Linked DNA regions of Homo sapiens: region 2 is reported to be linked to region 1. The links are microRNA targets in miRTarBase. Many come from high-throughput screens and were not tested one by one. Region 1 holds a microRNA gene; the other region holds the end of a gene's coding sequence.
What was found. Region 1 holds the annotated microRNA hsa-miR-634 (AACCAGCACCCCAACUUUGGAC, at 1,986-2,007, opposite strand). A microRNA usually pairs through its seed, bases 2 to 8, with sites in the 3' UTR of a target mRNA and lowers its output. Matches are read on the target gene's strand: a 7mer-m8 pairs with bases 2 to 8, a 7mer-A1 pairs with bases 2 to 7 and ends in A, and an 8mer does both.

Region 2: miRTarBase lists ZNF223 as a target of hsa-miR-634. The part of its 3' UTR that is shown has no 7-base or 8-base seed match.

The regions. Positions count from the first base shown.
Region 1 is chr17:66,784,738-66,789,138 of GRCh38, reverse strand. It overlaps MIR634 (microRNA 634), which reads right to left and starts at 2,067; the gene lies at 1,971-2,067. It overlaps PRKCA (protein kinase C alpha), which reads right to left. Exons shown (of 17, transcript NM_002737.3): 15 at 2,165-2,272; 16 at 160-300.
Region 2 is chr19:44,066,697-44,071,097 of GRCh38, reverse strand. ZNF223 (zinc finger protein 223) reads right to left here. Exons shown (of 5, transcript NM_013361.6): 5 at 3,099-4,401. The coding sequence ends at 3,821. Among named protein-coding and RNA genes, the nearest start is that of ZNF284, 3.3 kb to the left of the region's middle.

The DNA of each region.
Region 1 (4,401 bases):
AGGCCACAGGACTGAGGACAAGGCTGAAACCTGGCCCGTTTCCTCACCCTGTACAAGCCAGGGGCACCGGCCTCCTCTCTCCAAGAAAAGAGGTGAGTGGGATACTCCCAGAATTTGGGGACATGGGGTTCCGAAAACAGGCTGCTTTTCTGGACTCACCACTTTGGGCTTGAATGGTGGCTGGATCTCCCTGTTCTCCAGTTTTTCCCAGTCGATCCTCCGGAAGAAGGCATGCTCTCTCACGTCCCTCTCCCCCTCAGGCCCACAGCCCAGCCGCTTGGCTGGGTGTTTGGTCATCAGCTAGAAAGGAAAAGGAGAAAAGGAGAACAATGGATGTCAAGGGCTTCCCACAGACAGCACCTTCCATTTGCCTAGCTCTGCCTACAGCCCTGACTTTGTGGACGCCTGGACAGCATCTCAGAGAGCTGACCAAGACACTCAGTGGCTTGTACGAAGTGAAGCCAACTCACAAAAATGACATTGGCAAGAATAGCCCTTCCTATGGTGGTTTTCAAGACAAGGGAACAAGGAAGCAATCTGAACCCATGGCCAAATGGAAGAAGAATTTAAACAGACATCTCACACGTTGTCTGTTTTGGAGACACCATGCTATACATGTATCTAGTAATAAAAAAAAAAGCATGCAATCACTAAAAATTGTGTGTGCTGAAAGCATCACAGTCTAGCATCACAGAGGATGCCATAATAAGCATCATATGTCTACGTATTGTCTGGGCCAAAATGTTATCAATCAAAGACTCATAGATTAGAAAAATAAATGCTATAACAAGGAAGGCGACTAGTTAATTCCGACTTGCCCACTGCAGGACACAGAGACAAACACTGTCTATGAACTCTCTGAAGGCAGAAGCCAGTTCCTCCCGATCTCAGTATCTCTTCCAAGTGCCTTGCTCTTGGATGACACGTGACAAATGCCTCACAAATGATCACACTCACCAGATACTGTTAAGGGTATATTGTACTCCATCTTACTAAGCCTGAAAATAGCTTTGTGATCTAACTCTTGACCATTCAAAACTAGACAAGTCATGACCAGCAACTCTATTCCTAGAGCATTTCCTCAACCAAAGTGTGTGCATATCTTCACCAAAACACATGCCCCAGAAGGTTCACAGCAGTTCTGTTTGTAACAGCCTCAAACCAAAGCAGGAACAATCCAAATAGCCACCAGAAGTAGAATGGATAAGGAAACGATGGTGTGTTCACACAGTGGAACACTGCACAGCAATATGACAGGAGGAACTATGGCCCCACACAGCAATGCAGACAAAATCCTCAATCACAATATTGAGTGAAAGCAGCCAGGCCAGGAGCAACACTGTAAGGTTCAGTTTGTGCAGAGTTCAAAACAGGCAAGACTAATCCATGCTGTCCAAAGTTGGGGGGCAGGTTATCTTGGGGCGGGGTAGTGACTGTAGATGGGACAGGAGAGGGCTTCCAGGGTGGTGGAAACATGGTTTCTTGAGCTGGGTGCAATTACATGGGTGGATTCATTTTGTGAAGATTCATTTATCAGCATATTGATGATTTGTGCCAATTGCTGTATGTATGCTATAGCTCAAGAAAAGTGTAGCAAAGAAAGAACTAAGTCACACCAAGTAAGACAGGAGACGAGAGCACATACTTTCTAAGGGACTCTGATGACATCTGGTAGTCCCCACCACAATTTTATGAAATGGATTAGAATGAAAAGTGCGGTACAGTCATTAGGTGACTGGGCCAGAGTCCCAGGAAGTATTGGGATTCCAATCCATTCTCTTGGCCTTCACTTTCGCCACTGTGCCCTGCCCAGTAGAATGGATAAGGAAACGATGGTGTGTTCACACAGTGGAACACTGCATAGCAATATGAAAGGAGGAACTAAATCCTCAATCACCATATTGAGTGAAAGCAGCCAGGCCAGGAGCAACACTACAAGGTTCGGTTTGTGCAGAGTTCAAAACAGGCCAAGACTAATCCATGCTGTCCAAAGTTGGGGTGCTGGTTATCTTGGGGCATGACACCAAGCCCCAACCCTCGATGGCCAAAATGCAGTGGTGTGGGTTTGTGGTGTTTCTGCCATCTCTCTTAGAAGTGTGGGGAAAGTATTTCTCCTACCAAAGCTCTTGGTCCATGATCACAAAAGGTATCCAAATCGACTTACTCCTTTGCAGACAGAAACAGCCTCCTTGGACAAGGATTTTGGATAGGAAACGTTGTGCTCCATGATAGACTGAAATAGCTCGTCTTCATCTTCACCATCAAATGGAGGCTGTTCCGGAAAAAAAGAAAGATGGGAAAGTATTTAGGCAGAGTAATTCATTCACATGGTGCCTGAAGAGCCAATTCAGCACCAAGGAACAGACCAGGTTTCTCAGCCCCACCACAGGCTGCACAGTTTGCTCAGCTAACTTGACGGTTTATTTGATCATCTTTAATGAGATTGACGGTTGTGTGTTTTTCATTTTTTCCCCTCTGTCTCGTTAATTATCTTGCCCTGGGCAACCCAAACAATCTTTAGGGAAAGTGTTTTTGAGTAATGTTTTTAATGATTTGCAAATAAATTATGATTAATCCATTAATCTTGTAATTATGTGCTAAAAATCTAATTACGATCAAGTTAGGTTACAGATGGCTTTGTGGTCAGAAGGTGGGGGTGGCCGGTAGAAAATGCCAACACTTTCATTTGGGGTGAAGGGGACTTGAGAACGTGGCCTAAGAGGATGTTCCCAGTAATTCACACTGGGCCTCTGACCCAACAAGCAGCTGCTCTGAGGGAGGGCCTTCCAGCTGCACAGCAGCAGTGATGGGACCTTAGCTTCCATTGGACTCCTCCCTCATCCGCTTTGACTGGGTTTACAGTTACCAGGCTGAGAGAGGAAGGCACGGTGGCCCCGTGGGACCTTGTGGCTTTAGAGTCAGGTGGATCTGGACCAGAATTCTAGCTCTACTAACTTCCCAGCTGGGTGTCCACAGGCAAATGACTTCGTTCTTTAAAACACAGTTCTCCAGGCCGGGCGCGGTGGCTCACGCCTGTAATCCCAGCACTTTGGGAGGCCGAGGCGGGCGGATCACAAGGGCAGGTGATCGAGACCATCCTGGCTAACATGGTGAAACCCCGTCTCTACTAAAAATACAAAAAATTAGCCGGGCATGGTGGCGAGCGCCTGTAGTCCCAGCTACTGGGGAGGCTGAGGCAGGAGAATGGCCTGAACCTGGGAGGCGGGGCTTGCAGTGAGCTGAGATTGCACCACTGCACTCCAGCCTGGGTGACAGAGCGAGACTCCGTCTCAAAAACAAAAACAAAAACACAGTTCTCCAACTTGTAAGATGGGGTTTCTGGGAGTAAAGTGCCTTGTATTTTATGTTGTACCCAATAAGCGCCGAATGAAGGCAACTTAGCAGTATTATTATTTAAGACAGAGCAACTCTCTTGGGAGGGGCCTTGAGCACCTTCTAGGAGGAAAGGCTGAGCTCACAATGCCCTTTGAACTTTTTCCTCCAGCATGTCTGTAGTCCTGAGGGATCCATCACTTCCCGGTCACTCTGGCGGGATGGCACAGGAGGAAAGCGTTCATGGGAAATTCCGTAATGCTCCCCCTTTGGCTGCGTAACCTTGAGCTTAGCGTCAGAAAGGCAGAGCAAGGACCAGCGCTTGTACAGAATCCTCTTGTTTAATCTTGAGATGTTCCTTTCTCGTGGGAAAGAGGAGTCAGTCACTTTGGCTGACACGGGCAGGTCACACAGTGATGGTGTTTGGCTTAATTTTGAACTGAATCCTCGATCACAGGTAACTTCGCAGTAGTCAGAAGGATGCCCTTCTTATCAAACATTTTCTCCCAAGTCAGAGGCAGCCGTTGAGCCAAGTAGGTCCCTCCCCTCAACCACCACCCACAAATCACCTCAACCTGTTCATCCAACACCCGAGACCTGACCTCAGTCCCCTGCCCAGTCCTGGACAGGAGCCACGTGCCCTGAGGGAAAGATGCCAAGTCTACAGAGAGCCCCAGTGGGAGGACAGAGAGAGGCCTGGGTGTCTGGTACCACTCAACATTTTTTGGTCTGGAAATACAAATAAATAGGCCTCTTTTTCTGTTGTAAGTGCTTGGTGTAAGGAAGGTTCAATTTGGTGGAAGCTGCAGGTGGGTGAAGAGAGCTAAAATGAGCCTGCCTGTGAGGGACTCAGAACAGGGCAGGGGCAGCTGGCCACAGCAACTTCCACCAGCAGGAGCAACATGGAGCCTGAGAGGCCCCCAGGGCAGCTTGGGGGGGCACCCACCAGGGGGTGCAGGCTGCCGACGGCCACCTGTGTCAGCAGGGACAGCTACCTGTGCCATCAGGGGGACGTGTGGCTTTCATCTGTAGAGGGCAGGGCAGGCAGGCAGTGGTGGGGGAGAGCTG
Region 2 (4,401 bases), not on the chromosome of region 1:
AACGCGAACTTTAAAATGGCAGTGTTTGTCCAAGATGGCGATGCTCCTGCCCTGTCAAGGGCCAATATGGAGGGCCAATTGCCCTCCTGGAAAAGCTATCTTCCCACTTTTAAAGTTTTCATATTAATATTCTTTAGACGTGGAAATGCCACATTTAAGAGAAATTAAACTGCTTAGTATTGTGAAAGGAAAATATCTTGGGCCCCCAAAATCACTAAGGAAATCTCAAGCTGGAAATCGCTTAGGGCAAACCTGCCTCCCATTCTATTCAAAGTCACTCCTCTATCTGTCCTTGCTATCACGAGAACAGCATGGGAAAGACCCACTCCCATGATTCAATTACCTCCTACTAGGTCCCTTTCATGATATGTGGGAATTATGGGAGCTATAATTCAAGATGAGATTTGGGTGGAGACACAGCCAAACCGTATCAGTATGTGTAGATTTCTTATTTTCCATTATTACTTAAAAGAAAGCACGTTTCTAACTCTTCTATGGTCATGTAACAACATATCCTAGAAATCACTTCATGTACAGTACATTCTTTTTAGTGCTGCGTAAACTAGAAAATCCAGAAATAAATTTCTACACCTACAGTGAGCTCATTTTCAACAAAGGTGCTAAGTATATATATTGGGAAAAGGACAGTCTCTTCAATAAATGGTGCTAGAAAAACATGATATCCACATATAGAAGAATGAAACTTCAACCCTGTTGTTCACCATATACAAAAATAAAATCGAAATGGATTAAAGACTTAAATCTAAAACCTCGAACTATGAAACTACTACAAGAAAACATTGGGGAAATGTTCCAGGACATTGGTCTGGGCAAAGATTTCTTGAGTAATACCCCAAAAGCATAGACAACCAAAGCAAAAATGGACAAATGGGATCACGTCAAGTTAAGAAGCTTCTGCACAGCAAAGGAAGCAATCAACAAAGTGAAGAGACAACCCACACAATAGGAGAAAATATTTGCAAACTATCCATCTGACAAGGGATTAATAACCAGAATATAAGAAGCTCAAACCAAATAGGAAAAAATTTAATAAATCAATTTTAAAATGAGCAAAATATCTGAATAGACATTTCTCAAAAGAGGGCATACAAATGGCAAACAGGTATATGAAAAGGTGCTCTACATCATAGATCATCAGATAAATACAAATCAAAACTACCATGAGATATCCCACTCCAGTTAAAATAGCTTTTATTCAAAAGACAGGCAATATCAAATGTTGGTGAGGATGTGGAAGGAGTGAAGGAGGGAATCCTCGCACATTGTTGGTGGGAATGTAAATTAGTAGAACCACTGCGGAGAACAGTATGGAGGTTCCTCAAAAAATTAAAACTATATCAAAGTGATATCTGCACCCTCCCCTGCAATGTTTATTGCAGCACTATTCACAATAACCAAAATTTGGAAGCAACCTAAGTATGCATCAACAGGTGAATGGATACAGGAAATGGACATATACACAATGGAGTACTATTCAGCCACAAAAAGAATGAGATTTTGTTATTTGCAACAATATGGATGGAATTGGAAGGACATTACATTCAGTGAAATAAGTCAGGCACAGAAAGACAAACTTCACATCTTCTCACTTATTTGTAGGAGCTAAAAATTAAAACAATTGAATGCATGGAGACAGAGAGCAGAATGTTGGTTACCAGAGGGAGGGAAAGTTAAGGTTGGTGGTGAGGGAAGTGGGGATGGTTAGTGGGTACAAAACTATGCTTAGATAGAATGAATAAGATCTGGTATTTGATAGCACAACAGAGTTACAGTCAATAATAATTTATTGTACATTTGAAATAACTAAACGAGTACGGATTGTTTCTAACACACACAAAAATCTGATAAATGCTTGTGGTAACAGATACCCCATTTACCCTGATATGATTATTATGCATTGTATGCCTGTATCAACATATATACTCCATATGTGTACCCATAAAAATTAGGATTTTTTTTTTTTAGGCTGAGTGCAGTGGCTCATGCCTGTAATCCCAGCACTTTGGGAGGCTGAGGTGGGCAGATTACTTGAGTGCAGTAGTTCGAGACCAGCCTGGGCAACATGGAGGAACCTCATCTCTATAAAAAAATACAAAACTTAACCAGAGGCTGTGGTGCACGCCTGTAGTCTCAGCTGCTCAAGAGGCTGAGGTGGAAGGATGGTTTGAGCCCAGGAGGCCACCACATCCAGCTAGTTGTATTTTTAGTAAAGACAGACTTTCACCATGTTGGCCAGGCTGGTCTTGAACTCCTGGCCTCAAGTAAACTGCCCACCTCAGCCTCCCAAAGTGCTGGAATTACAGGCATGACACTGCACCCAGCCCTTTGCCCATTTTTTTAATTGAGTGGTTTCTGTTATTGAGTTGTAAGAATTCTTTATATAATCTGGATAGTAGAACTCATGCTGTATGGTCTTTTCATGTTCATGACAATGTCCATGTATGCACAGCATTTTTTAAAACCTAGGTCCCATTTAGGTATTTATATTTGCTTTTGCTTATGTTGTTTCATTGAAGAATCCATTCCAAATAAAGTCAGGAAGATTTACTTCTATGTTTTCTTCTAATACTTTTATAGTTTAGCTGTTACATTAGGTCACTGATGAATTTTGAGTTAACTTTTAAGTGTAGGGTGAGGTACAATCTAACTTCATTATGTTGTGTGTCTGTGTATAGGTGTCCCAGCAGTATTGGTCGAAGAGACTATTCTGTCTCCATAAAGTAATCTTGGATCCTTCTTGAAAATCAAGTGGCCTTAGATGTATGGGTTTCTTTATGGACTCTCACTTCTATTCCATTTGTATATATATCTGCCTCCTGGGTTGAAGCGATCCTCCCACTTCAGCCTCTCCAGTAGTCTCCAGCTGGGACTACAGACATACACCAACACAACTGGCTAATTATTGTATTTCTTGTAGAGATGGGGTTTCTGATGTTCACTGAGAAATCTAAAAATAATGCATACAATTATAAAATAGAAAAATACCAGCAAATATTCACTGCTGAAGAAAATAAGAATATAATTGTAACACACTATGTATGTACACTCAAAAAAAAAATTCCAGAAACACAGAGAGATGCTTGTCTAGAAACAAAGAAAGGTATTTATTTAATTTTTTTTTTTGGAGACAGGGTCTCACTCTGTTGCCCTGGCTGGAGTGCAGTAGCACTACCATAGGTCAGTGCAGCCTCAATCTTCCAGACTCAAGCAATGTAAGGATGCAGCAAAAATACAAAGACACATGTGGCTGACATTCTAGTGGTCATCAATTTTGACATGTTCATCATTAGTGTTTTGAAAGTGTGTGAACAAACTCTTATACTAAGACCTGTCTCCTGAATAATAACTAATTGTCAAACTTCTGTTAGAAACCCTGCAGCATTCTCTGCTCTGACAGTCCCACGACCACTGGGGTATGCTGAGCTATGGCTGAAACACTAACTTCAAACTGTCCTCAATCACATGGGGAAGCTTAAAAAGCTGATTTCTTAGAAGTAGTGAGAACAGTGGCTCTAGAGGCAGGGAAGGGTAAGGGATAGGTGGGATGGCCAAAGGTTGGCTAATGGATGCAAAAGTACAGGTAGATAAGAGGAAGAAGTTCTGCTGTTCTGCAGCACTAAAGGTGACTATCATCGACAACAATTTATTTTCAAACTGCTGGAACAATGAATTTTTAATTTTCTCAACACAAAAAAGAGATAATTGAGGTGATAAATGTGCTAATTACACTGATTTGATCATTATACATCATATACATATATTTAAATATCACACTGTACCCCATAAATATGTACAACACTTACGTGTCATTTAAAAATAATGATAAAATTATATCAAGATTCAAGCGCCTCTTGTAGCGCTTCCCACAGTCTTCACATTTGGATGGATTTTCTCCACTGTGGTTTTTTTGTTGGTCTTTACGGTATGACCGGTATACAAGCTTCTTTCCACAATCCTCACATTTGAATGGTTTTTTTCGGCAATGGAGTCTCTTATGATTCAAAATACTTGAGGCCTGTCTAAAGCTCTTCCCACAGTCATCACAGTTATAAGGTCTCTCTCCTGTGTGGGCTCTATGGTGCAAGTCAAGACCTGACTTAGTAATGTAGCTCTTCCCACACTTGTCACATTTGTATGGCTTTTCTCCAGTGTGGACTCGCTGATGGATCAAAAGATAGGAGGACCGTCTGAAGCTCTTCCCACATTCTTTACAATTATATGGTTTCTCTCCTGTGTGGATCGTCTGATGCTTACACAAATCCAGCCTACGAATGAAGCCTTTTCCATATTCCCCAGTGCTGTTTGGTTTCTTTCCTGTGTGGACCACACAATGCCTATTAAGACTTGACCTAAGACGGAAGCTCACACTACATATCTCAC